7 linked regions of the Homo sapiens genome follow. The protein of the gene in region 4 purifies or fractionates together with the protein of the main gene of each other region. This does not show direct contact. Each region holds a gene or a part of one and is shown on either strand. Other genes may lie near its edges.

Region 1 (4,766 bases), on a different chromosome or scaffold from region 4:
TGAACTTACTTGAAAATGTAACGCACATTGGGTGGAGTAAGAAAAAGAAAAATACACGGAATTAGTTCAACACCATGATAAGACCTGTGGGTACCACAGAGAGTACACAAACTGCCCAGAAAGCCAGGAGATAAAATGCATTTGGCTAAGAAACACTATTTTAATACCTTGGTTCTGTATTTTTTTTTCTTTTTTTAGGACAGAGTCTTGCTCTGTTGCCTGGGCTGGAGTGCAATGGCACCATCTTGGCTCACTGCAACTTCTGCCTCCTGGGTTCAAGTGATTCTCCTGCCTCAGACTCCCGAGTAGCTGGGATTACAGGTGCAGGCCACTACGCCCAGCTAATTTTTGTATTTTCAGTAGAGATGGGGTTTCACCATGTTGGCCAGGCTAGTCTCAAACTTCTGACCTCAAGTCATCTGCCTGCCTCAGCCTCCCAAAGTGCTGGGATTACAGGCGTGAGTCATCACACCTGGCCAGTTATGTATTTTAAATGCAGCCTGCCTCTCCTTCCAGTTCTATTAAGTAACCTACTGATACTAAACCTTTCCCTACAGGATGTGATACGAATTTATGATTCAAGGGGTATTTTTAAATTTTATTTTATTTTTTAAAAGATGGAATCTCTCTGTCCCTCAGGCTGGGGTGGATTGGCACAATCATAGCTCACTGCTGCCTCAAATTCCTTGGCTCAATGGATCCTCCTGCCTCAACCTCCTTAGTAGCTGTGACTATAGGCACATGCCACTGAGCCCGGCTAATTTTTAAATTTTTTGTAGAGATGAGGTCTCACCATCTTGCCCAGGCTGGTCTCAAACCTCTGGGCTCAAGTAATCCTCTCCCTTACCCTCTCAAAGTGTTGGGATTACAGGCGTGAGCCACCACGCCTGATCTGTTTGTGTTTACAGTCATGAAAGGAGAGAAACCATTGTTGTAAAAAAAATGCCAATTCAGGCTGGGCGTGGTGGCTCATGTCTGTAATCCTAGCACTTCGAGAGGCCAAGACAGGAGAACTGCTTGAGGCCAGGAGTTTGAGACCAGCCTGGGCAACACAGAGAGACCCCACCTCTATTAAAAAAAGAAAGAAAGAAAAAACCAATTCATTATATGATTTGTTTCCCATACAGCGTTTCAAAATACTGCCAAATCAAATATCAGATTTGTGTATTTTATAATGAGATCTGTCTTGAGGAACAGTGTAATGCAATGCACGTAGAGACTATCACTGGCTAAAGCCAACCTATGAATTGTTAATATTACATTCTTATAGTCTCTGTTTCTAATCTTAATGTTCAATGCCAGGTCAGTCTAGAAACCAATCTTATGGGGCATGTGGGGAAAGAATCAGATAAAAGAGGCACACAGAATGCTCGGCTATCAGATGGAAGTACAACAATCTAAACAGGAAATATACATGTACTCTGCAGTTACAAATACTGCAGACATCATCTGTAGCCTGTAAGTCTGCGATTAAGATAAACAGAAAACCAGATGCTGGGAGGAAATATTCTGAAGAAAGGAGTTAGGTCATGGAATTACCTGGCTCTTCTTTTAAACCAATTGGTTTTCCGCTTGAACACAAAGCTGTACTCATCACTCTGTCCATACGCGATCACAATATCCTCTAGTTCTTCCATCACAGTCTGCGCACATTTGGTCATCAGCTGGAGAGCACGGCTGTCATTGGGTTTTGCAAAGTTGTGCTTCTCAGCAAACCTTCACAGGGGAAAAAGGGAAGAAAGCATGGATGGAAGCCTGTCATTAACAACACGCTCTGTTGCTAGATAACAGAGGCTGTTTGGAGGAAGATAATGTAATAGCACTGTGAACTCAAATGCTCAACTAGCCACAACCTGATCCATTTTCTTAAGAACTTAGTTTTTTTCCTGCCCTGAAATTGAGAAAGCCAGACAGAAATGCTAAGCCTCAACTCTCCTTTCTGTGAAATGGGAATAAAAGAATATTTACCTCATTGGGTTGTCCTGAAGATTAGGGAGAAGATAAAAGTAATCATACCTAGCTCCTAGTAAGTGCTCAATAAATGTTAGTTATAATAATCATTAACAATGCAGCCCTCTTCAAAGATTAAATTCCCATCTTTCTGTTATATTTCTTTCTCCCCCTCCCTCTTTTTCTGAGACAGGGTCTTGCTCTGTCACCCAAGCTGGAGTGCAGTGTCCAATCACCGCTCACTGCAGCCTTGACCTCCCAGGCTCAAGCGATCCTTCCACCTCAGCCTTCCCAGTAGCTGGAACTACATGTGTGCACCACTGCGCCGGGCAAATTAAATTTTTTCTTTTTCTTTCTTTCTCTCTTCCTTCTTTCTCTCTCTCTCTCTCTTTTTTTTTTTTTTTTTTTTTTTTTTTTTGTAGTGGCGGAGTTTCACAAACAACAACCACAGAAAAAACAAAACAAAAACAAAAACTTGGTCTCCAACTCCTGGCCTTAAGTGATCCTCCTGCCTCCCGCGCCCAGCCTTCTCTTTTTTTCTGACTCTCTGTTGAATCTAGTCCATGTGGCCTGTTACTGATAATGAAGCACAGACGTTAAGTATTGCCCACAAGCAAGGCTTACACAGACTTCTGAACAGTCAGCATTCAAAGATATCTAACAGAATAGCTAGGCAATTGGCTTAAGAGCTTAAATATTGTGCATGAGAGTGACTTTTAACAACAGGTCCTTGCTAACAAGTCTCTGTTCACTTAACACGGGCACTCCAAGCCAGATCCTCATCACGGGAGCACATCGCCCATTCAATTACGCTAACAGCCAGCGTTCAGGCACTGTCCTAGCCAACACGCAGGGCGGGGCAATGCTCCATGCTGCGCACTCATTGGCTACCGCGTTACCCTGGTAACCGTGACTGGAGCGGGCGGGAGGACTTGCAAGGGAAGAAGCTGGATTCCCCGGAAGCGCTGGCGCATCGCGACGCCCCGAGTCGAGCTCGCTCACCGATGGAAATTCCGGCCGTCCAGCCGCACTACCACCCAGCAGTGTGCCAGGCAGGTGTCGTCAGCCTCGAAGTCCCTCACGTACTCGAACTTGCTTTTTGCCATGGTCGCCCCCAATCTCAGGTACCGTCTCAGAGTGATGGAAATGGTGGCCAAGGAATCGTGAACCTTAACTTTACAGGCGCCCCACATTCTACACGCGGAAAGGAAAGGGCCAGATAGCCCCGCCCCGGAAGTGTTCTCTTCGCGGCTACTCTAGCCGTAGGGCAGTCATAGTCTCTCTCGCCTCTCCCTGTAGTTCTTAACCTCCCAGGCAAAGAGGATGGAGGTTTAGGTTCCTCCGTTAGCACCTTCCACGCTTGCTTCTTCCTCCTCCCGTCCTGCGGCAAATCAGTCTCACGAGGTTTTTAAAAATTATTTTTTATCTGCTGGTCTTGACTTACTGGCAAAAGCAATCAGTGTCCCCGTTAGTGCCCAGATCAAAATCATACCCCAACCTAAAAAAAAAAAAAAAAAAAAAAATTCTTTTTCTGGTGTTTGAAGGTGTAGCTGTGATGTTTCCCCTTTTCTTAGTGGCATTTATTAACTTGTAGAAAATCTGGAATACACCAAAACTATAGTTAAGAAAATTAACACTTTGTTTCTCCGTCTTTCCCATCAAAGCATTGTGGATGGTTCCTTTCAGTCTTTTTTCTTTTTGTGTATGTAGGTTTACACAGGGAATGCACAAGATTGGAATTATTCGCCTATACAATGTTTATATATTTTTCCACTCAGCTTGAGCATTTGCCAGTATCATCAATTATTCCAAAGTGTGATTTTTAAAAGAAAAATGGACTCAATATTCCAACATATGGGTATACTAAATTGATTTATTCAACTTTTTCACCATTAAATAATCACAGAACCAGTGTTTGATATCTTGTTGCTGGTGGATAATAGTAAAAATAAAATCCTAATATTTGTGTCATACTTTGTGATTTACAAAGCTCTTTCAAATTCATTACCTACTTACTTACTTTTTTTTTTTTTCCATCCTCAAGAAAGATATTCAGGCCAGGCACGGTGGCTGACGCCTGTAATCCCAGCACTTTGGGAGGCAGAGGCAGGAGGATTGCTTGAGTTCAGGAGATTCATACCAGCCTTGGCAACGTAGCAAGACCCCTGTTCCTACAAAAAAGAAAAAAAATTATCCAGGCTTAGTAGCCCATGCCCGTAGTCCTAGCTATGGGAGGATGAGGTGGGAAGATACTTGAGGCCAGGAGTTCGAGACTGCAGTGACCCATCATTAGCCACTGCACTCCAGCCTTGGTGACAGAGCAAGAATCTGTCTCTAAAGAAAAAGAAAAATATTCAAACAATATAAATCCTTTTATATGTAGCAAAAAGTCTCTCACTGACTCCTAACAACATACTTTAGGCAGTTACTGTTACCAGTTTTTTGTGTATCCATACAGGGATCTATATCAGTATGTGTGTATATCCTCATAATAGTACCACAAATGGTAGTCATCACTCCTTTGATGCTCAGAGTAACATCAGAGGGATGCAAAAGAGGAACTGGGATTTCACCTTTACAAAGGGGAAATCTGAGACTCAAAGAGAAAAAAATAATTTACATAAGGTCACATATGTGGCAGGACCAAGACATAAATTATGACATCCTGCATCTTTTCTTTGTTTCTGTTGCTGTGAAGTCAGTTTTCTGTAGGTTATCATTCCTCACCTTTTACTTCCACAAACTCCTCTCTCCAAGCTGACCAGGAGACAACCAAATCTTGCCTCCTCTAGGAGCCCTACTTTCATTAGGTGAAT
Region 2 (4,020 bases), on a different chromosome or scaffold from region 4:
CAACTATCCCAATCTGAATACATATGGAGAATGTTTTCACAGTCAGAGGGATTATTGGGAGGAAAAAAAAAGATTATTCGATTCAGCATTTCCAGAAGCACAGAAAGTAGGTCAGTGAATTTGCACTTTAGAAATATCATAATTACTTGCTAAAAACAAATTATTTCCACTGAGGGGCCTCAAAATCCAAATGGCACTCAATTTGAATCCATGAAGCTTAAGAAACTAAATTTTTTTTGAAAATCAATTATAATGGCTGAGCCTGGTGGCTCACACCTATAATCCCAGCACTTTGGGAGGCCGGCAAAAGTTCAAGACCAGGCTGGGCAACATGGCGAAACCCCATCTCTACAAAAAATAAAAATTAGTGAGGCATAGTGGCGTGCGCCTGTAGTCCCAGCTACACAGGAGGCTGAAGTGGGAAGAACACCTGAGCCTGAGCCTGGGGAGGTCGAGGCTACAGATCACGCCGCCACACTCCAGCCTGGGCAAGAGAGAGAGATCCTGTCTCAAAATAAAAAGGGAATGATCTTCACGATCCATCCCAAAACATATTGGAGATAACCCTACCTTTAGCTAACTATCCCCTGAAAAACAAGAGAGTATTTACTAAGTAGAACACATTGTTGGATAGCCATTCCAAATTGCTCTAACTTTGCCAAGCTTAAATGGCAAGGAAGAAACCAATTCCTGGCTCCCCTATTTGATAACTTACATACTTCTGCAGGCTCTTAAGCCAAAATGAGCCAAAATCTTAAAGAGAGTTAAGACTGACATAGACATTAGCAAACATATCACCTTTTTTTCCTATTAACATTGTTGTTCCCCATAAAGGTCTATTCAGCATTTTTTTTTTAGTAGCCCTCTGTAGATATCAAGAAATGCTCATAAATTTAGCCTGTAGTTCCTCAGGCTCAATGGCTTGTGAGAAAAGAAAAAAAAAAAAAAAGTTGGAAATACTGTCTTCTCTTCCACAATGCCCACGAAGCTAGGCAAAGGCAATGATTCTGCATTTAATCACTAGATGAATAAGAAACAGACTTGAATTTAGAAGAAAGATAAAGGACCGCAAGAACATTCAGTAAAGAGTACTGCCTCTATTTCTTTGCAAAGCAGCTCTCAGGATCTGCCAATGAACCTCATTTTGACATGGAACGCCCCATCCACTCTAATCCGGGGCATATCCCTCAAGACACAGTCAGTCAACCGGAACTCTGCCAACTTTTGCTTGGGAGTTGTGTGAAGAATAGTAGCAACAAGAGCCTACTTTGAGAAGGAGATCAACAATCACACTCAAGAAGAAAAGAAGTTATTTGGCAAAGGGATGCATGTTGCCAAAATGTTAGTCACAGCTTCAAGGGCCCAGTTTGTGTCTCTACAACTATTCTTTGCTTTGACAGAGGCCATTATCTGACCCAGGAAACAGCTCAGCTTCTGTCACCCTCCCCATCTGAAGCAGTGAAGAATCCTTTCAATTTGGTAGTATCAAACTGTGACACAGACAAGATGTCCACCAGAGACTAAAAGGGGAGAAAAAATGTGTAATTTGCCACTTTCTACATAGGACTGGCTCAAGCAGAGCAACGGAAAACTGTGACAGGATAGGAAAAATGGAAAATCATTATGTTAAAGAAGCAGGCTGGGCCGGGCGCGGTGGCTCACGCCCGTAATTTCAGCACTTTGGGAGGCCGAGGCGGGTGGATCACAAGGTCAGGAGATCAAGACATCCTCGCTAACAAGTTGAAACCCCGTCTCTACTACAAAAAAAAAAAAAAAAAAAATACAAAAAATCAGCCGGGCGTGGTGGCAGGCGCCTGTAGTCCAGCTCCTCAGGAGGCTGAGGCAGGAGAATGGCGTGAACCTGGGAGGCGGAGCTTGCAGTGAGCCGAGATTGCGCCACTGCACTCCAGCCTGGGGGACAAAGTGAGACTCCGTCTCAAAAAAAAAAAAAAAAAAGAAAAGAAAAGAAAAAAAAAATAAGCAGGCTGTACCAAAAGTCCGCCCAGGAGCACCGAGCCTCCATATGTTATCTCAAAATCCCCTTAAAAAACAAACCAAAAAGGTACACTGTAGGTTGCAATAGCATAATATTAAGCAGGTTTTTACTCCCAAATAAGTACATATATTTTGTAGCCTGCAACTCTTCCTGGGGTTGTAAGAAGACTATGTTTGCTGAAGCTGCCTGAACCAAGAGCCCATGAATTTCACAGTTATTTCAGAGCAGGAAAACAGACTAACATATACCAGGTTACTCTCCCAATCAGAGAACACAAGTAAAGAAAGAACATTTAATAATTTTCTCGGGCCGGGCGCGGTGGCTCACGCCTGTAATCCCAGCACTTTGGGAGGCCGAGACTGGCAGATCACAAGGTCAGAAGTTCGAGACCAGCCTGACCAACACAGTGAAACCTCGTCTCTACAAAAATACAAAAATTAGCCAGGCGTGATGGCACCCAGCTACTCAGGAGGCTGAGGCAGGAGAATCGCTTGAACCTGGGAGGTGGAGGTTGCAGTGAGCAGAGATCATGCCATTGCACTCCAGCCTGGGCAACTGAGCGAGACTCCGTCTCAAAAAAAAAAAAAAAAAACCCAAAAAAAAATTTTCTCTTCAACAGAACAAGACTTCTGTCTCTTGCCTCTTGCCTTTTTTTTTTCCTAAAAACACCTAGTGAGTCTAGAATCTCTTCCCTTCGTAAAAGCCATCAGTAAAACCTGAAAACTCCAATGTTCACACCTCTCCTGCATTTCACCTTGGTGCTATCACATAACTTATCAGTACCAGCTAGGGTAAACACTACTCTAGTATCAAGTGTGAGGTGGAATTAGTAAATGACCAGCCTGGCCAACATGGCAAAACCCTGTCTCTACTAAAAATACAAAAATTAGCCAGGTGGCACATGCCTGTAATCCCAGCTACTTGGGAGGCTGAGCCAGGAGAATTGCTTGAACCCAGGAGACAGAGGTTGCAGTGAGCCAAGATTGTGCCATTGCACTCCAGCCTGGGCAATACAGCAAGACTCTGTCTCAAAATAAATAAATAAACAAATAAAAAAACAAACACTACATTCTACTAGTCTTCATCAATTGACTTCATTCATCTCCACCTTCCCCAACTCTTAACTTCCCTATCTTCATCTTGATGGCAACCAATGTAACACAATATGAAATTTTTACTTTTAAAAGTTGACATTAATAAGAGTTAAAAAACTAAACATGCGGCCAGGTGTGGTAGCTCATGCCTGTAATCTCAACACTTTGGGAGGCCGAGGTGGGTGGATCACCTGAAGTCAGGAGTTCGAGACCAGCCTGACCAACATGGTGAAACCCCATCTCTACTAAAATACAAAAAATTAGCTGGGCGTGGTGGTGCATGCCTATAGTACCAGTTACTTGGGGGACTGAGGCAGGAGAAGCGCTTGAATCCGGCAGGCGGAGGTTGCAGTGAGCCAAGACTGCGCCATTCCACTCCAGCCTGGGCAGCAGGAGCGAAACTCTGTCTCAAAAAAAAAAAAAAAAAAAAAAAAAAAAAAAAACTGAATATGCATCAAATCAAAACCAGTTCTTCCCTGGCTGGCACGCAGACACACACACACACACACAAACACACACACACATGAGCAAGGCTAAGAGGAAGAAACAGAAAAACATGTTTCCTTTTGTTGTTGTTGTTGTTGTTGTTGAGGTGGAGTTTCGCTCTTGTTGCCCAGGCTGGAGTGCAATGGCGCGATCTCAGCTCACTGCAATCTCAGGTGATCCACCACCTTGGCCTCCCAAAGCGTTGGGATTATAGGCATGAGCCAGCGCGCCCAGCCTTGTTTTCCTTTAAGAGACAGGTCGGCCAGGCGCGGTGGCTCACACCTGTAATCCCAGCACTTTGGGAGGCCAAGGTGGGCAGATCACGAGGTCAGGAGTTCGAGACCAGCCTGGCCAATACGGTGAAACCCTGTCTCTACTAAAAATACAAAAATTAGCTGGGCGTGGCAGCACGCGCCTGTAATCCCAGCTACTTGGGAGGCTGAG
Region 3 (4,020 bases), on a different chromosome or scaffold from region 4:
ACTTGGAGGTTAGGACTTAGAAAGACGGGCAGCTATGGTGCACTTGCTGAAATCACAGCATCTAAAGAGGGTCAGAAAGAAAAAGATACTGCAGGTGTTACACGTTCAGCTTCAAGTCCCAGACTTTCCTCCTCTTTGGATAATAAAGAAAAGGTAATCTATTTCACAGTCTGGTTTCTATGAAAACTGTTATGATTTCTTTTCCAGGAACATCAAATCTGGTAGATTTTCTGCTAGTTATCTTTAGATCTAGGTATCAAGTTAATTAACCTTAATGAATTACATAAGACAAATGTAATTTATACAGAATTATAAATACTGGAAAGATCAGATGTATTTGCCTAAAACATAAATTATGGGACTATACTCCGTTAAAGGAATCTATTACCTTACTTGAGAATTTATAATAGAACTGTATTAAGGAGCAGGCTTATTTTGTTTATTATGATTCAAGAAACTTTCTGAAGTTTAAAAAACATAGGAACACATTTATTCTAGAATGTTAGTATACTCATAAGTTACATTTATTCAGTATCTGAAAAAAAATACCAGATTTTTCATCTACCATATTACAAGCAACTTTGTCTTAATGAGTAAATTTAATAACTATTTTGAGAGGTGGTATTAATACTGCATTATATAGGATGTACCACAGTTTATTCAATACTAGTATTTATTTCTACAGCATATTCAGTGCTTGAACTATTTTTTTTGCCCATACAGTTTTCTTTCTATACTTAGAAATGTTTCCTTATATCAGAAATTCAGATGAAATTTCTCATCAAGTAATTCTAATATTTTTGCTTTTTTATCAGTTTACTGTGCAGTTGGTTTCCAGGTATTTTATGCCAGCTTACTAGGAATGTATCAGAGTGTCATTGTCACTACACACTCTTAGCCATATTTGGATAAATATAATTTAAATAATATTTGTTTTGACTATTTTGATGTATTTGAGAGCATTGATTATCAAGGTTCTAAATAGCTTATATAATATAAATGCTTGAGACCTCTCAGTGAACAATATTTGAAAGTTTATTTCTCTGGAAGAAATAAAGATATTTCAGCTTATGACACAGTATTAATCTGTTAGAGAAGTTTTAGAAAAAGTCATTAAAATCTGGAGAAATTTTTTTCCTTTCTTAGTAAAATATTATCTGATTCCAGGCTAAAAGAGAAAGAAAACTAATTTGAACAGGCTGATTATTGATTGACATTAATTTTAGAGTTCAGCTAGGAATTGTTGAAATACTGTAAACTATGATAGCTATGTAATTATAATTATTGAATAACCTTTTCTTAATACTTTTAGCATTGCCTATAGTCAGTACCCAAATTAATTTTTACTTATTTTTTTCCCTGTTGTGTAGGAGAAAGATAGTAAAGGAACTAGGCTTGCATATGTTGCACCTACAATACCAAGACGACTAGCCAGTACATCTGACATTGAAGAGAAAGAAAACAGGTGAGTTTATTTTGATTTGCTTTATGCATTCACTATAAAATCTTTATTATCTAGCATTAGAGTTAATACATGAGCATTGTAATTATGTGCGGATATGTATTGTGGGAAGAGATGGAGGATATTCCTGAAGGAGAAAATACCAGGTACATAGTCCTGAGGAGGTGCAGGCTTGGTATGTTCATGAAATAATAGCAAAGAAGATGTGGCTGGAACAGAGTAAGGGGAAAGTGGGAGGAGATAAGGTCATGAACTAGTATGAGTTCTCTAAATATTTGGAACATTTAGGAAAGGGGAAAGAAGAAGGAAAGCCCTTACTTAATCATTTTAGTTTGTTTTAAATATTTTTGTTTAAATATTGTTTAAATATTTTAGTTTCTTCCTGTTTTTCAGCTTATAGAATTTTATTTTTTTAATTTAATTATTTTTATTTTTATTTTTATTTTTTTTGAGACAGAGTCTCGCTCTGTCACCCACGCTGGAGTGCAGTGGCGCAATCTCGGCTCACTGCAACCTCCACCTCTCAGGTTCAAGTAGTTCTCTGCCTCAGCCTCTCAAGTGGCTGGGATTACAGGCACCTGCCACCCTGCTCAGCTAATTTTTTTATTTTTAGTAGAGACAGGGTTTCACCATCTTGGCCAGGCTGGTCTTGAACTCTTGACCTTGTGATCCACCTGTCTCGGCCTCTCAAAGTGCTGGGTTACAGGTGTGAACCACTGCACCCGGCCAATAACTTTTTAATATACTTTTAATCATGTTATAATATCTAATTTTTTTATTTTTTTCCCCTAAGATCTCATAAGCAGTCTTCTATGTTAATATATATTTTTAATAAGCATTTTTTTTGTCGGCACATAACATACTATAAAGTAGATCTTCTGCGGTTAAAGTAAGCATCTCCCCTACTTTATATTTTGTGATCAAAAAGCATATTTCTATAAATATCTGAATTTTCCCCCATACTTAGGGGAAAAATTATACCTTAGGGTATATAATCTTAGTACTGAAATTACTTTATCTTCTTGATTAGTATTCCTAAGTGTCCTCCCAAAGGTTTTTACTAGTTTCAGCTTATACTAATATTTACTAGTGTACCGCTTTCTTAATCCTATTTTAAAATTATGTACCAGAATCTGAAGGGTGTTCTTTTAACAGAGATTCTTCAAGTTTGCGAACAAGTAGTTCATATACAAGGAGAAAATGGGAAGATGATCTTAAAAAAAATAGCTCAGTTAATGAAGGATCAACGTATCATAAAAGGTAATAATACTATTCTTAAGCGGTTTTTATGTATTCATTTATAAAAATATGAGGCAATTTGTTTGGAGCCCTCAGTTTAACATCATTTTAAACAAATATGTGTTTTTATTAAATACGAGTTTTTGTTGTTTAAAACTTACTCTAAACACAGGATATATATTTAAAGATAGGTGATAATTTGTTATGCCTATTATATAATTAAGCTTCAAATATTATGAAATGTTTTTTGGATTGTTACATATTTAAAAGGAACTCCTTTAGAAGGAACTCCTTGACTAGAACAACTTAAACAGGCCAGTGTCTTAATGGATCTAGTTGTCATTGTTGATCTGGAAAGATTTGGCTTGCCCTAGAACTCAGAGCTATGGAAATGCCTTCAGTTGGAATGTTGGTAGTATCATATTGAAGAGGAAAAAAAAGCCCTATAAACAATTTCTTTACTAAAAGCAACCAAAAAGAATAAGATGTGAACAAGTATCATGTAGGCATTGGTTACTTCCGAGGTATCTGACCCATTGCTGAAATAATTTCCTTCAAAAAAATGTCAACGTCTTGTTTTCCCTGGGTAATACAAAACCAAAGTGTGTTTTTCAGGCTCAGCCTGGCATGACCATATGGTGTGGAATAGTTTCAAAAATATGAAATATCAGATCATCTTTGTCTTGTTGAGAAAGTTGGGAGGAGGCACTAAAATGATACACTACCGAATTAAGTGAAATCTTCTAAACTCTAGCAAGTTGTAGATGCAACTCTTGGTGCTGGAGCTGGTGGTGTATTTAGGAACACAGTTTTTAAATTTTTTTTCTAGCCTTGTAATTTATATAATGTATAGACATTAACTATAGAATACACATACAAACACATCCTATATAGATATGACTCTTTTGTTTAGTTGCTCCTTTGGTAGAAGACAAGATGATTTGATTAGTTCTAGTGTTCCAAGCACCACATCAACACCAACAGTTACCTCTGCAGCTGGGCTTCAGAAAAGCCTGCTTTCCAGCACAAGCACTACTACAAAGATTACAACGGGTTCTTCCTCAGCAGGCACACAAAGCAGGTAAGTCACAGATACATTTTGTGCTCAGGTCTACTGTGTGCTTATGTATGTGCATGCGTTTTTGTTTAGAAGATTGTGGGGCTCTGGATTTTTTCATTTATCTTGTTAAATTTATTTGCAGACAAAAATTGGTTCCAAAATGAGGCAATTATGCATGTCTGGGGGAAATTTTAAGTTCCTGAACTATGAACTTTCCTTGAATTAGACTGCTTAAAATGTAAATTTCTCTCTTTGACAA
Region 4 (4,020 bases):
GTTGCCCAGGTTATTTATTTGTTTGTTTGTTTGCGACAGGGTCTCGCTCTGTTGTCCAGGTTGGAGTATAGTGGTACAATCATGATTCATTGCAACCTCAATCTACTGGGCTCAGGTGATCCTCCCACCTCAGCCTCCCAGAGAGCTGGGACTACAGGCATGTGCCACTAAAATTAGCCCAGCTAATTTTTTTTTTTTGACACAAAGTCTTGCTCTGTCACCCAGCCTGGGGTACAGTGGTGTGACCTTGGCTCACTGCAACCTCCACCTCCCAGGTTCAAGTGATTCTCCTGCCGCAGCCTCCTGAGTAACTGTGATTATAGATGCCCCGCCACACGCCTGGCTCATTTTTGTATTTTTAGTAGAGACAGGGTTTCACCATGTTGGTTAGGCTGGGCTCGAACTCCTGACCTCAAGTGATCTGCCTGCCTTGGCCTCCCAAAGGTGCTGGGATTACAGGCGTGAGCCACCATGCCTGGCCTAATTTTTTGTATTTTTTGTAGAGACAGGTTTTGCCATTTTGCCCAGGTTGGTCTCATACTCCTGGGCTCAAGCGATCCTTCCACCTCGGCCTCCCAAAGCTCTGGGACTATAGGCATGAGCCACCACATCCAGCCAATTGGCTGCTTTTGACAATGAAGCCAGGGCACTGGGGAAGGGCCTGCAGTGACTCACAAGTGAAACTAGCAAGAACTTTTCCAGACTTAAAAAACAAAAAAGACCGCCCACAGCCTGCAGGTTGGAAGCCCTCCTCCCCTGGATGCTGGGGGAGCCCACCTACCAGCCTTGAAGCTCAGCTCATCATGCTCCTGCCCCTCATAGTCATACAGGGCCCGGACTCGCACTTCCGTCCCCGAGGTGGCGTCGTCGTCGAATGGATTCGAGTCCCCATTGGCATCCGTGGAGGAGAAGGGGTTGTTAGACTCATCGTCTGACCAGTCGGTGGGATAGCTCTGGGTCTTCTCGTAGCTGCTCACACTGCAAGAAAGGGGAGGCCACAGGGCCCTCAGCACAGGGCGGCAGAGGGTGTGAGGCCCCCGCCCCGCAAGGGGAGGGCACTGGAGCCTTGGGGCTCAGGGCTGAGGGCTCCTTCCGAAGGAGCACAGGTGGAGCCAGTGCTAGTGTGAGTTCATGCCATCCACACTCATCCTGAGCCATCAACAGGCTTTCCAGGGGCAGGCGGCTGGAGATGCCCACAGCAGAGGCCAACCTGGGGCCTCACTCTCTAGTCCCCAGCACAGACTGCGCGTTGTCTGTTTTCCTGTCATGGTGCTGCTAGGGCCTTGAAGGGTTAACAGAGGACAGAGAAAAAGCAACTTAAGATTGTTAGCTGTGCCCTCCCCGAGGAATGGGGGTGCCAGAGAGCCTGTGCCAGAGAGCAGGTAGTGGGCCAGGGTGCGGCACGCCAGGTGCCCACTTCCTGCAGAGCTCCGTGCATTGCCGAGTGCCGAGGGGTGAGACCCCTGGACAGAGAGAGAGGAAGAGAGACAGAGTGAGCGCGGTGGGAGCAGAGGAAGCATTTGTTCACCAACTTTTTGGCCTTAGTGTCGTCCTTCTCACTGACGGTGCTGCCCGTGTCGTCCTCATCCTCGAAGGGGTTGTAGCTGGACTGTGACTGCGCAGACTGGGCGGGGTTGCTCGGGACATTAAGGGTGCTATGGAGAGAGAGAGCTTTCAGGGGATCCCAGCTCTGCAGGGGCCCGTGAGGGTCCTGGCAACTCCTAGCTGCAGGATCTCAAGAGACAAATCAGCTCCTCCTGTGACCGGAGGGGACCGTGGTGTTTCAACAGAAAGGTTACTATGGCAGAATGCGGGCAATACTTCAGCTGTGAAACACGGTCCAGGAGCCTAGGAGAGGACTTGGTTTCCCTTTTCCTTCCTTGCACCTGGAGACAGTCCGTCCAGAACAGGGGCCCTGGGGTGGCCCAGGGGCGGGTGACAAGCCACAGCTGGAGCAAAAGTCGTTTCCAGGTTCAGGGCTTCTCCTCTGTCCTGACTCCCACCAATGTGAGCTGGGGGGGTCAAAAAGCCCCTCAGGGTCTCCTCTGAGAGTGACAGTGTGGGAGGGGCCGGCTCCCATGGATGAGTGGGAGAGGGCTCTGAGCTCTTCAGCCCACACGGCCTCCTCCTGACTACTAAGGGGTTCAGGGCTCGCTCTTCTGCTCTGTGGAGCTGAAGCCTCCAAAATCAGGGCCAGGGCCTGCGGCACCGTCTTTTCTAGATAGAAAGAAGATTCCTTTGGTGCTCCAGAGGGAAAATCCAGTCGTGCAACTGCCTACTGTTTGCCAGGCCCAGTGTGGGAACCAGAGAGATCTGGGCCAAGCTCTGCCTGAGGGCTGGGAGCCGGGAGCTGAGTTACACACTACGAAGACCACAGGCAGACCATCAAGCAATCCAATCAGACAGGCACCAAGGGCCCTGGCACCCCACCAAGTAACTGATCCTAGGACCGGGCTACCCTGGCCAGCAGCACCTTCTACTTCCAAGACCAGGGCCTCAGGGCACAGGCCCCCAAAGCACTGGATGGACTGCTCAGCCTGAGCACCCACCACCCCAGAACCAAGGAAGGGAGGCGAGGACATGCCTCCAATGCCACCAGGGTGATCCTGAGTGGCCAGTAACTGCCTCATCCACTTCAGCCTGGCAAGTGGTACTTGACCTAGGCCTGCTGGAGGCCAATATCCAGGCCACATGTCTGAGCTCACCGGCCCTCCTCCCTCCTTGGCACCTTTCTCTAGCAGACTGTTGTGAGACGGCACTGGTGGGGGCGGCTGGATTGTGCAGCAACCCTGGCCAGCCCAGGGCCCCCAGGGTCTCCTCTGAGGCAGTGTTTCTTCTTTCCCATTCCCACCCCCAAGCATACAGGTGCTGGCCTGATCCCTGGGACAGGCACTTACTGCCGAGCCCACCTGCCCAGACAGCGTGCAAAGCAGCGGAATGACGACAGCCACACCTGCTGGGGAGCCTGGGTGGGGGCTTCAGTGCCTGGGGCTGCAGGAAGGCCAAGGGAACCTGGGCTAAGCCTTCTTAGGAAGCCCCCGTATGAAATGACTATTACTGAGTGTCACATGGAGGCCTGTGGGCAGGTCCTATAGGAAGACCTCCTCTAGCACACACTTTCCAGAAGGTTCTAATGACCACAGTGCCACCCTTATATCTCTCATTTTCAGCCAATGACTAAGTCAGAAATAACCAATGCTCCTAGTGAAGAGGTAATTTGGAAAGGAGATGCCTGGCAGTCCTCTCCTGTCCCTCCCTCGACTGGCGCCTGCACACAATACAGAGTGAGCATGAACCTCGGCAGGACCTCAGCTGCCTGAGGGAACCAGGGTGGCACCTCCACCAGTGTCCGGGCAGGGCGGTGCTATCCCTGGGGACATGAATGCCAGCCCTGTCATCAGCTCCTCCCCACTCAGGTCTGAAGCTCAGGGCCAAGCCTCCCTCTCTGGATCTGTCAGCAGCTCTGGCACCAGGCAGGAAGACGACCTTCCCTGGAGATGCCCCTGGGCCACGGCCCACAGAGCTCAGGAGCCCAGGAACCTCCCAGGTGTCCAGGCTGGGCCACGGCCCACAGAGCTCAGGAGCCCAGGAACCTCCCAGGTGTCCAGGCCGGGGCTGCCCTGGACCATGCAGATTGCCCAGGGCCCCCACCATGGAACGGCCTCTTTTGGATGGAGGTGGCGCCCACTCACCTGCTGGGCTTACTCGGCAGAGACTGGTCGCCTGTCTGGTTGATGCCCGTCAGGGTGACGCCGTCAGTGGCCTTCTTCTTCTCTCTCCGGCTGAGGGTTCGATTCAGGTCTGCGGACCACTCCTAGGCAACAGGTGCCGAGGGAGAGAAACCAAAGGTTCACTACTTGCTGGAAGCCACGTCTGTCCTCAGTTCCTGCCCAGCGAGCCTGCAGTTGGCTCTGTGCATCTGATGTGTAGACTCAGGGCCCCAGCTCTCCCTGGTTTCCCAGAAGACCTCAGGCTCCCCATGCCCCACTTATGAACCCAAACGACCTGAGCCCCTCCTCA
Region 5 (3,017 bases), on a different chromosome or scaffold from region 4:
GAGCCACAGGGCATGGGGTCAGGGTGCACTCCTGCCCAGTAGAGCCCTCACCCCCAAACAAAATGCATTACTTCTTGTTCCTGTTTCCTCCGGGCCGCCTCCTCTTTCTTCTTCCTCTTCTCCTCTTCAACCTGGAGGGTCAATACAGAGCCAGATGAGACAGGGCTGCCTCAGGCTGCTGGGTCTCTCGGAGTGAGAGGTCTAGCCAAACAAGCCCCTCTCCTAGGGCCTGGCATGGAGGGCTGAACTCTGACCAGGCCCTCCCCACTGTGGGGAGACAAGCCCATGTGCCGGGCAGCACACCGACCCTCTTCCATTCCCTTTGGGGATCCTCAGCGGCACCCCTGGGTGCCTGGCCCTGCCCTAGATGCAAAGGTATGCAGCAGGCAGACAAACAGAACCAATGCTAAAAGATCCAGGCACCACTAACATGAAGAAATGGACCAGCATGGTGAGCCTGGCCCAAGGAGAGAGGATCTGTAAGGCAATGACCAGGACAGCACTGTGAGGGTTATCCTGAGTGGGTCTTGGGGTACCTGGGAAGGAGCAAGAGCGCCAGGGCAGGATGGGGATGGTGGGCGGAGGGCAGCCTTGGGGGCTAGGTGAGGAGACCAGAGCCCACTCCAACCAGCAGGCAGCACCCGGGCAGGGGCGAGGACAGTCTGATGCTGCAGGGAGAGCTTATTAGTGGAGCCAGCAGGCTGGGTGCCGGTGAGGGAAGCCCTCGGTTGCTTTGGGAGGTTCTGGCCTGAGCCATTGCACGAACAGACATGCCCTCCACTGACGGAAAAGGAGCAAGTTTGGGGAGTTGAAAATCACATTTTCACCTTTCCTTTGGACAGCCTAGGTTTCAGATGCTTCCCAGCCCAGTGGAGCTATCAGGTAGGCACGCCCTCCATGGCAGGAAGGAGGAACAAGTTTGGGGAGTTGAAAATCACATTTACTTTGGACAGCCTAGATATCAGAGGCTTCCTGGCCCAGTGGAGCTATCAGGTAGGCAGCTGGGCAAACTGTTTTTGGGCCACCGGCTACAAGATAGATGGTGGAGAAGCCGCAGGACCAGATAAGGTCTCCTGGGGAGGCGCCACACACAGAGCTAGGGAAAAGAAACCAGGAAGGCACAAAGGTCTCAGAGACTCAGGATGGGGCTGGGGCCAACAGGATCGAGCTCTTTCGAGATAGATGGAGGGAGAGCAGGGCTGGCCGAGGGAAAGGGGCTGAGGTGGGGGAGGAGCTGGGCACTGAGCTTGGAGGAACCAGAGACACAGTGCTCAGGATTTCTGCTTTTTCCCTTTAAAAGTTAGTATGTGTTTATGTGCTGGTGGGAATGGTACAGGGAGAGGCAGGACCCCTCCCCCATGGTGCCTCGGGCCTGGGGATGCCTTCTTGCAGCAGCTTGGTGAGGTAAGAGTCCCTTGGTTGGGAAACAGGAGCTACTAGAAGTCACAGGCCACAGCCAAGGTGGCCAGTGGAAAGGCCAGCACAAAGAGTGCAAGGCCTGTGAGGCTCTGGCCGGGCCACCCTGGCGCTCCTCTTGTCTGTTTCCTGCTTCTGAGCACTCTGCCAGGGAGTGCAGCAAGCCAGGGCGTCTGCACAGCCAGCACCAGGCCACCTCACAGCACAGCACGGCAGGCGAGACCCAAGGCTAGGTGAGTGACTGTGATGGAATGGGGAGGGGCCCTGATGAGGCAGTCACACCAGCCAACCTCACAGGGCAAGCCCAGCTCTTCCCAACCTGCCAACCAGGATGGACCTGCAGACCACTCACCACTGTCTAGAGCTTTCCCCAGAGTTCCAGTTCGTTATTCCTCCAAAGCACTGCAAACTCCAGCCACCCACACTTGGATCTGGCATGAGCTCTCCCCTCGTGCCTTGGGCCAGTGCAGGGCTAGGCATAGATGCCTTCCCTGACCTTGTACATCCCATCTATCAATCAACCACCCTGTCGATTCTCCTTCCTCAGTTCCTCCCAGAGCCTCCTTCCTGAGAGCTGTGGCATCCAAACTCGCCCTCCACGGTGGTCTCCTGCTTTAAGCCTCTTGGGGACCCACCTGCTGGTGGCAACAGCCCCCATGGCCCACCTCCCATGGTGTGCACTGGGGGCCCAGGTGCCTCTCATCCTGCTGCCTGCATCCCAGGGTACCCCATGCGCTGTGCCCAGAGATTCTGACATTGCGTTTTTGTTCCTGTTCTTCTGTCCTATTGGGCACCGAGGAACTTGGGCCATCCCTGATCCTGGGGGCGTTGTGGGGTGCAGGTGGGGAGTATGCTGGGAATAGGAGGTGGAGATGCATCAGTGACACGCGCCACTCAGGTGAGGGCACGGTGGGACTGGGATCTTAACATGTCAGCTTCGGGCCAGGCGTGGTGGCTCAAGCCTGTAATCCCAGCACTTTGGGAGGCCAAGGTGGGTGGATCACGAGGTCAGGAGATTGAGACCAGCCTGACCAACATGGTGAAACCCCATCTCTACTAAAAAAATACAAAAATTAGCTGGGCACAGTGGTGCGTGCCTGTAGTCCCAGCTACTTGGGAGGCTGAGGCAGGAGAATCCCTTGAACCAGGGAAGTGGAGGTTGCAGTGAGCCAAGATCGTGCCACTGCACTCCAGTCTGAGCAACAGAGTGAGACTCCGTCTCAAAAAAAAAAAAAAAAAAAAAAGTCAGCTTCACAGTTTGCCAAAAGTGACTGGTTTTCACTTAAACTGAGGGAATAATCTTTTTAAAAGAGGTCCTTCATTAGAAGATACTAGTTAATTTTTCTTTCTGACATTTATAAATACTGGGATTTTAATAAAAGTGTAAACATCAATGCTTAAAAAGTAAACTATGTAATAATCGCAATGGTTTTTACATTTTCAACAAATATCACGCTTAAGTCATTTTCACTTTACTCACCCGTCTCTTTTCTTCTCTCTCTTTTAATAAGGTGTTTCTGTCTACCAGTTTCACCACTGTGGGCAGTCCTGCAAAATAAACTGCGTGTGAGAAGAGTCTGGGCTCTGTGGGCCGTCCCCAC
Region 6 (3,847 bases), on a different chromosome or scaffold from region 4:
CCCTGCGTCCCCCCACCGCTCACCTTCAGGGCCGCAGCTGCCCCTTCCTCCCAGAAGCCTTCCCTGGCTGCAGGCTGGTGAGGTCCCCAAGTCCCCCTTCCTAGAGGCGCCTTCTCATCCTCTCTGCAGGCACTTCTCAAGCTATTGCAGAACTACTCTTATTTCATGACGGTCCAAGAATAGACATGGTCTTCAAGGCAGGGCCCGTCCAGCACACCAACGGGGCCACAGTCCTGGAGACTCCATGCTCCACCCCTCCCTCCACAGATGCCCAGAACCTCTTTTCCCACAGTGACCATAGCCCCCGCGACCATCTGACCCCCGAGCTGGCTCTGGGAGGCCACAGGAGCCCCTGTGGACGCAGCCACAAATGGGCCAGGTGCGGAGGGACCCCAGTCCACAGCGGCCAGGGGGTCCTGGGGAGCAGCTTTAAAAGTGGGACCAGCAGGACAGTCAAGGCTGGTGGCCTCAGGGACTTTGGACTTGGCCAGCCTGGTGACACCGGAGCAGCTCTGGAGCTGTGGCTTGTCCCCACCACACCAGGCACGGCCCTCCCCTCCCCACACAGGCAGCCGGAGACACCGGCCCTGCAGGGGGGGTCGCTGCCCTCCCCACGCTCCTGCGCCCAGCGCTCTGCAGTGGGCCCTCGACGGCCTCCACGGCCGCGTCCCAAAACCGCCCTCCCCACGCCCCTGCGCCCAGCGCTCTGCAGTGGGCCCTCGACGGCCTCCACGGCCGCGTCCCAAAACCGCCCTCCCCACGCCCCTGCGCCCAGCGCTCTGCAGTAGGCCCTCGACAGCCTCCACAACTGCGTACCAAGCACAGTGACCATCCACTTTTGCCCCCCAGCCAGACCTCAAACACCCAGAAGTGAGAAGAGCTTTCAGAGTGGTTTTATCATTAAATTAATATCTAATCACATAATTCAAAGATATAAAAATTGGAATGTAGAAGGTGGGGCAAGCCCCTCCCTCAGGACTGGAGGCGGCAGCAGGGACAGAGCCGCACTGAAGCGGGTGAGCGTGCGAGAAACATACAGCCGAGCAGGCTGCCCCGAACACTCAGTCCAGGGTGGAAGCATCGCCCCGGCACCCCCCAACCCCCGAGCCCACTGCGCAGCCCACAGGAAGAGTGCAGGCTTTTCACATTTCAGAGGGTGGGGTGGGGTGGGGTGGGGCGGGGTGGGCCCCTGGCTTTGGGCTGCCCTCCAGCAGCCCCTGAAGGACACAGGCGGTGATGGTGGGAGAAAGGCCCCCTCTCCCAGGGAGGCCTCCTTGTCCTGAGCTTGGGCTGAGGTCTCTGTTCCAGTAACAGATGCTGGTTTTGTTTTGTTTTTTTTTTTAAGACAGGGTCTCGCTCTGTCACCCAGGCTGGAGTGCAGTGGTACCATCAGAGCTCACTGCAGCCTGCGCCTCCTGGAGTCAAGCGATTCTCCTGCCTCAGCCTCCCAAGTAGCTGGGATTACAGGCGCCCGCCACCACGCCCAGCTAATTTTGTATTTTTAGTGGAGACGGGGTTTCACCATGTTGGCCAGGATGGTCTCGAACTCCTGACCTCAGGTGATCTGCCCGCCTCGGCTTCCCAAAGTGCTGGATTATGGGCGTGAGCCACCACGCCCGGCAGGATGCTGGCTTTTAGTTCATTTAAATAGAAAATAAACCTGAACTCCACAGACACCATCCAGAGTGATTACAGGTGGCGTCCAAAGGTCAAAGGGCAGCCTCCACAGGGTTTCCTTCCTGGTTCTGAGACTTCCCAGGGACAGCAGAACTTCCTTGCACTGGTCCCAAGGAAGCCCCTCTTGGCCACCCTGAGAGGTGTTCCTGTCCCCAGATGCCCAGGAGGAGCAAGAGTGTGGGGACCGGCCCTTGCCGTTCCTCCTCCAAGTCCACCCACTTCCTGCCCCAGGGAGATCCTGAGGCCAGGAGGCAGGCTGGCCCAGGCAGGCTGATGGCGGAGGGTGGTGGGGAGGGTGGGGGGGCCCTGGACTTTCCCTCCCAGTCCTGGCACCTTGCAGGTGGAGAGGGCTCTTCAGGAAGGCATAGTTGGCCTCCTGCAGACGCGCACCTGGCCGGCAGGCACGAGGGTCTGCTGAGCCTCGCAGAAGTCCAGGAGGCTACGCCAGAGGGGGCAGCAGCGCAGAAGGAGGTGGTCTCCTGTGAGGGTGGGAGTCAGATGGGAGTCAGTCAGGGTCAGGTGGGAGGAGTCAGGGTCAGGTGGGAGGAGTCAGGGTCAGGTGGGAGTCAGTCAGGGTCAGGTGGGAGGAGTCAGGGTCAGGTGGGAGGAGTCAGGGTCAGATGGGAGTCAGTCAGAGTCAGGTGGGAGGAGTCAGGGTCAGGTGGGAGGAGTCAGGGTCAGGTGGGAGGAGTCAGGGTCAGGTGGGAGGAGTCAGGGTCAGATGGGAGTCAGTCAGAGTCAGGTGGGAGGAGTCAGGGTCAGGTGGGAGGAGTCAGGGTCAGGTCGGAGTCAGGGTCAGGTGGGAGGAGTCAGGGTCAGGTGGGAGTCAGTCAGGGTCAGGTGGGAGGAGTCAGGGTCAGGTGGGAGGAGTCAGGGTCAGATGGGAGTCAGTCAGAGTCAGGTGGGAGGAGTCAGGGTCAGGTGGGAGGAGTCAGGGTCAGGTCGGAGTCAGGGTCAGGCAGGAGTCGGCAGCTCCCTAGCCCAGCCCTGGCCTCACCTGTGTTCCCACCCTGGAAGAGCCCAGCCCCGCCCTCACCGATCAGGCAGAGCCCCTCCTGGGCCCGCGTGACAGCCACATTCACTTGGTTGGGGTCCACAACGAAGCCCAGAAACTTCTTGAGCCAGCTCTTGGTGGGCCGCTGGTCCAGGTCGCTCTTGGCACAGGTGCGGACGGTGCTCACCAGCACATAGCGCCACTCGCTCCCTGCGGGATGGGAGGTGAGGCCCTGCTGCCGCTGCGCCCACCCTCCCGGCCCCACCCACGAGCCCCCAGCCTCACCCTGGCTCTTGGTGATGGAGGACACGGCCACCCCGGCGATGCCCTCTCGCCGAAGGGCCTTGCTGATCTCAGAGGCCTGCGCGTTGTAGGGCGTGAGGACGGCGATGTCCTGGGGCTCTACGGTCCTCCCCAGGGTCAGCTGCTTGGTGATACGGACCTGAGGAGCCGAGGGGGCAGGTGGAGCGGACCCTGGTGTCTCTCCTGCCCTCCTCCAGGAAGCCCTCCCTGACTCACAAGCACCAGACACTCACCACCTCAGCCACCTCCTCCAGAAAGCCCTCCCTGACTCACAGGCACCAGACACTCACCACCTCAGCCACCTCCTCCAGGTTGGCCTTGGAGTTCTCATTCCCTTCGTCCGTGGACACCAGCAGGCTCCGCTCGTGGCCCTGCACGTGGCCAAAGATGACAGGGCAGCTCTCCTTGCCAGCGTGGCCCAGGACACTGGGCGGCCTCCTCAGGCCCTGCCACGTCTTCAGCTTGCTCTTGTAGAACGCCACAGAGGGGAAGGCACAGATGCCCTCATGCTGCAGGCAAGGATGTGCGCTGGTCAGAGGCTGCCACGCGGGGTTGTGGCCCCCCAGGGGCTGCAGGTGGGCTGGGGGCTGAGTGGGGCGGGCTCACCATGCGGTACTGAGTGTCCAGCATATGTGCGTCCTCGTGGTACCGCTCGAACAGAGACCGGTCCAGACCCAGGTTTTGCAGCCGCTCATTCTTGACCACAGGCCGCAGCTGCTTGTGGTCTCCGAGAAGAACCACCTGGAGGAATAGGCAGGCCTGGCCCTGACACCCCTAGACCCAGAGGGACCCCAGCCCCACACGACACCCGCGTCTGCACACACAGGGCACCCCAGGTGGGAGACTGTGCCAGGGACGCCTGCTCATGCTGCC
Region 7 (4,020 bases), on a different chromosome or scaffold from region 4:
CAGCTGTCGTCCCAATTACTTGGGAGGCTGAGACAGTAGGATCACCTGAGCCCAGGAATTTGAGGCTGCAGTGAGCCATGATTGTGCCACTGTCGCCAGCCTGTGTGACACAGCAAGATTCTGGTGGGGGTGGTTGGGGGGGGGGATGGTGGAAGGAGAAGAAAATAAACGAAGGAAGAAAGACATATATAAATAAATGTAAAATAAATTCATGGACTGGAAGATTTAATATAGTAAAGCTGTAATTTCTTCCCAAATTGGTACACAGGATTAATGCACTTCCTATTAAAATCTCAGCAAGACTTTCTTTTTTTTGCATAAACAAGATTATTCTAAAATTTGTATTGAAAGGTAAAGATAATAGAATAGCTAAAACACTTTGAAAAATAAGAATAAAGTAGAGGAATCAGGCTACCAGATTTCAAGACTTACAATATAGCTAGAGTTGGCAAGATTCTATGGTATTTGCAGAGGGACAGACACATGGAAAAATGGACCAAAACAGAGACAACAGAAACAGACCCACACAAATACGTCCAACTGATTTTTGACAAAGACGGAAAAGCAATTCAATGGAAGTAGGATGGCTTTGTCAACAACAATGACAACAACAAAAGAACCTCAATCTAAGTCTCACATCTTACATGAAAATTAACTCACAGTGGATCACGGACTTAAAGGAAAAACATAAACCTGTAAAATGTGTAGAAAAAAAAAAACCAGGAAAGCCGGCGCAGTGGCTCACGCCTGTAATCCCAGCACTTTGGGAGGCCAAGGTGGGCGGATCACGAGGTCAAGAGATTGAGACCATCCTGGCCAACATGGTGAAACCCTGTCTCTACTAAAAATACAAAAATGAGCTGGGCATGGTGGCGCACACCTGTAGTCCCAGCTACTCAGGAGGCTGAGGCAGGAGAATCGCTTGAACCTGGGAGGCAGAGGTTGCAGTGAGCCAAGACTGTGCCACCGCACTCCAGCCTGGGTGACAGAGTGAGAATCTGTCTAAAAACAACAACAACAACAACAACAACAACAAAGAGAATCACTTGAACCTGGGGAGCCGAGATCATGCCATTGCACTCCAGCCTGGGTAACAAGAGCAAAACTCCATCTCAAAAAAAAAAAACCTATATATAAAATACTCAAATTCTTGAAGACATTTGACCAAAGAGGATATACAGATGGCAAATAATCATATGAAAAGATGTTCAACATCATTAGCCATAAGGGAAATGTAAATGAGAACTAACGGGTGAATGGTTAAATAAACAGACTGTGTGGTACATCCATACCATGAAATACTACTTAGCAATAAAAAACAATAACTATTGATGCATGAAATGAGGATGAATCTCCAGAGAATTATGCTGAATAAAAAAAAGTTCAAAATCTTAAGTACTGCATGAATCCATTTAAATAACACACATGAAATATCAGAGAACAGATTAGTAGTTGTCACAGATTAAGGATGTGGTAGGGGTGGGATGGTAGTGAATACGATTATAAAAGGGCAACATAAAAAATCCTATCATGATGGAAATGCTCTGTATCTTGACTGTATCATTGTCAATATACTGTTGTGATACTGTACTATAATTTTGCAAGATGTTACCATTAAGGAAAACTGGATAATGGCTACATAAATCTTTGTTTACTATTTCTTACAACTAGATGTGCATGTAGAATTACCTCAAAATGAAATGTTTAATTTTTTTAAAAAGCCCAGGCTTTAGGACAAAGCTAGATGACTTTGGGTAAGTTGCTTCCCTTATTATAGGGCTAAATTACTACATTAAAAGATCAATGGTCTAAGCATAGTGCCTGGTACAAAGTAAGTGCTCAACAGATGGCTACTAAAATAATCCTAAAAGTCATGGCAGTGGGGATGAAGAAGCGTATAACAAGATATTTAGATGATACCACTAATGGGTTTTGGTGACAGATTAGATGTGGGATAGTGGGTGACGGGGAGTCAAAGATGATGCCCAAGTTTCTCATCTGAGCAAGTAGGTGCTTAGTGGCACTGTTTACTGAGCAGATGTGGAGTGAAGAGATGAACAAAGAAGAGTTTAGTTTTGGAAGTGGTGAGTTTGTGTTGACTGGGAAACATTCAAATAGAGATGCCCAGTTAACAGTTGGATATGTAAGTCTGAAGTTCAGAACACAACTCTGAGATGGAAATTTAACTTGATGACCACCATGCAAATGATAACTGAAGCCAGTAGAATGGACAAGGTTGCCAAAGGGGAGAAACCACACAGCCACTATGACTATAAAGGAGCTTCAACCTTTAAGGACTGGATAAAAGGGTCAGTCTAGCAAAGGAAATATAGAGTAGCCAGAAAAGGAGAAATAACAGGCATTTATAGTGTCAGCCAAGATAAGAGGAAGGTGTTTTAAAAAAGAGTGGTCAACTATGACCAAGCAGTGAAGAGATTAATTAAAATGAGGAGTAAAAAATCATCCTCTGAGTTTAGTGACCTGGGTATCGCTGGTGCCTTTGTCAGAATAGCTTTGGTGAATAACAAAGTAGGTTTCCACTGGAGCCGACTGAGAAGAAGGTGGGAGAAAGGAAGACTGCATAAACCACCACCAAGTTTATCCCTGAAAAAAAGTAGGTAGTACAGAGAGGGAAAGAAGTTGAAGATGTGTTACAGGATAAGAATTATTTGAGTAGGGAGGAGAAGATATGATTCAAAGTATAAGTAGCAGGATTAGCTCAGATAGAAGTGGCACTTCATCTACTCTAAGAAAAGGAAACAAGAAAGGAACCATGCAGGCTGGGCGCGGTGGCTCATGTCTGTCTGTAATCCCAGCACTGTGGGAGGCCGAGGCGGGTGGATCACCTGAGGTCAGGAGTTCAAGACCAGCCTCACCAACGTGGTCAAGCCTCATCTCTACTAAAAATACAAAATTAGCCAGGTGTGGTGATGCATGCCTGTAATCCCAGCTACTTGGGAGGCTGAGGCAGGAGAATCGCTTGAACCCAGGAGGCAAAGGTTGCAGTGAGCCCAGATCGTGCATTGCACTCCAGCCTAGGCAACAAAAGTGAAACTCTGTCTCAAAAAAAAAAAAAAAAAAAAGGAAGAAAGAAAGGAACTATGCAGATACAAGTAAATTTGAAAATGTGGCCATTCATCGTACGTACAGACAACTACTCCCTCATCATTTCAATTTTCCTTTGAAGGAGAAGGCAAAGCCATTGCTAAGACTGAAAGACTGGATTAATTTTTTTTTCTGTTTACTGGATTTTTATTCCAAGCACCTGATCCAGTGCCTGGGACATAGATTTAATAAGTATATTTAATAAATATAATGGAAATAAACAATTACTGTTACCTTAATGCAGTAGTTCTTTACAATTTGTGCACAACTTTCTTCAAGTTAGCCACTAGGGGGTAGTCTGCCAATCTTATTCCCTCAATCTTTTAATCCAGTGAAATTGATAGAAAACTACAATGCAGTGTAGGTCATATTAATAAAATGTTTTTCCTCAAGAAAATTCTGTTTAATAATTATATACATGTACGTGTGTATGCATTTGCATGCACGCGCATACACACACAAATACACTGAGGCACGATGGGAGGGTTGTTACTTCTGCCGGCCTCCCACTGCAGCCATATCAGGATGCCCCAGAGGCAATAGTCAGCATTTTCCAGAGACACTTTTTGCAATTTCTCCAGGGCACTCAGTAAATAGCAGATAGGTCTCTTATACTTATACTTAATTAACTAGAAAAGGCTGATGAAAAAAATCCCTGAAAACTAATTGCTCAAACATTTGCCTTTGCTTCTTCTAAGATGTTTTTCCCCTCTACACCTTCCCGTCTTTCCGAATTAAGTAAGTTTTTTTGTTTTTCTTTGAAATGGAGTCTCGTTTTGTCACCCAGGCTGGAGTGCAGTGGTACGATCTCGGCTCACTGCAACCTCAGCCTCCCGGGCTCACGCGATTCTCATGTCTCAGCCTCCTGAGTAGCTGGGACTACAGATGCCCTCCATGACGCCCAGCTAATTTTTA

The links.
Region 1: the proteins of PACSIN2 (region 4) and THG1L purify together in Homo sapiens (affinity purification with mass spectrometry; 3 studies listed by BioGRID and IntAct, with this or other methods). This does not show direct contact.
Region 2: the proteins of PACSIN2 (region 4) and WIPF2 purify together in Homo sapiens (affinity purification with mass spectrometry; 3 studies listed by BioGRID and IntAct, with this or other methods). This does not show direct contact.
Region 3: the proteins of PACSIN2 (region 4) and PPP1R12A purify together in Homo sapiens (affinity purification with mass spectrometry; one large-scale study listed by BioGRID and IntAct). This does not show direct contact.
Region 5: the proteins of PACSIN2 (region 4) and CARS1 purify together in Homo sapiens (affinity purification with mass spectrometry, with the first as the bait; one study listed by BioGRID). This does not show direct contact.
Region 6: the proteins of PACSIN2 (region 4) and HELZ2 purify together in Homo sapiens (affinity purification with mass spectrometry; one large-scale study listed by BioGRID and IntAct). This does not show direct contact.
Region 7: the proteins of PACSIN2 (region 4) and GAB2 purify together in Homo sapiens (co-immunoprecipitation; one large-scale study listed by IntAct). This does not show direct contact.

Annotation. Positions count from the first base shown.
Region 1 is NC_000005.10:157,729,818-157,734,583, reverse strand, and holds the start of THG1L (probable tRNA(His) guanylyltransferase), read right to left. Parts: upstream 3,165-4,766; 5' UTR 3,144-3,164; coding exon 2,953-3,143; intron 2,786-2,952; exon of another isoform or gene 2,575-2,785; intron 2,155-2,574; exon of another isoform or gene 1,974-2,154; coding exon of another isoform or gene 1,969-1,973; intron 1,717-1,968; coding exon 1,540-1,716; intron 9-1,539; coding exon 1-8. UniProt on the Homo sapiens protein: Adds a GMP to the 5'-end of tRNA(His) after transcription and RNase P cleavage. This step is essential for proper recognition of the tRNA and for the fidelity of protein synthesis.
Region 2 is NC_000017.11:40,222,168-40,226,187, reverse strand, and holds part of WIPF2 (WAS/WASL-interacting protein family member 2), read right to left. Parts: intron 1-4,020. UniProt on the Homo sapiens protein: Plays an active role in the formation of cell surface protrusions downstream of activated PDGFB receptors. Plays an important role in actin-microspike formation through cooperation with WASL.
Region 3 is NC_000012.12:79,805,928-79,809,947, reverse strand, and holds part of PPP1R12A (protein phosphatase 1 regulatory subunit 12A), read left to right. Parts: coding exon 1-153; intron 154-1,370; coding exon 1,371-1,465; intron 1,466-2,617; coding exon 2,618-2,722; intron 2,723-3,614; coding exon 3,615-3,782; intron 3,783-4,020. UniProt on the Homo sapiens protein: Key regulator of protein phosphatase 1C (PPP1C). Mediates binding to myosin. As part of the PPP1C complex, involved in dephosphorylation of PLK1. Capable of inhibiting HIF1AN-dependent suppression of HIF1A activity.
Region 4 is NC_000022.11:42,875,356-42,879,375, forward strand, and holds part of PACSIN2 (protein kinase C and casein kinase substrate in neurons protein 2), read right to left. Parts: intron 3,815-4,020; coding exon 3,693-3,814; intron 1,656-3,692; coding exon 1,533-1,655; intron 979-1,532; coding exon 782-978; intron 176-781; exon of another isoform or gene 1-175.
Region 5 is NC_000011.10:3,002,470-3,005,486, forward strand, and holds part of CARS1 (cysteine--tRNA ligase, cytoplasmic), read right to left. Parts: intron 2,965-3,017; coding exon 2,897-2,964; intron 132-2,896; coding exon 72-131; intron 1-71. UniProt on the Homo sapiens protein: Catalyzes the ATP-dependent ligation of cysteine to tRNA(Cys).
Region 6 is NC_000020.11:63,557,215-63,561,061, forward strand, and holds the end of HELZ2 (3'-5' exoribonuclease HELZ2), read right to left. Parts: intron 3,716-3,847; coding exon 3,581-3,715; intron 3,484-3,580; coding exon 3,265-3,483; intron 3,114-3,264; coding exon 2,957-3,113; intron 2,882-2,956; coding exon 2,714-2,881; intron 2,157-2,713; coding exon 2,032-2,156; 3' UTR 872-2,031; downstream 1-871. UniProt on the Homo sapiens protein: Can degrade highly structured RNAs through its concerted ATP-dependent RNA helicase and 3' to 5' exoribonuclease activities. Shows a strong preference for pyrimidine over purine residues for its nuclease activity.
Region 7 is NC_000011.10:78,411,025-78,415,044, forward strand, and holds part of GAB2 (GRB2-associated-binding protein 2), read right to left. Parts: intron 1-4,020. UniProt on the Homo sapiens protein: Adapter protein which acts downstream of several membrane receptors including cytokine, antigen, hormone, cell matrix and growth factor receptors to regulate multiple signaling pathways.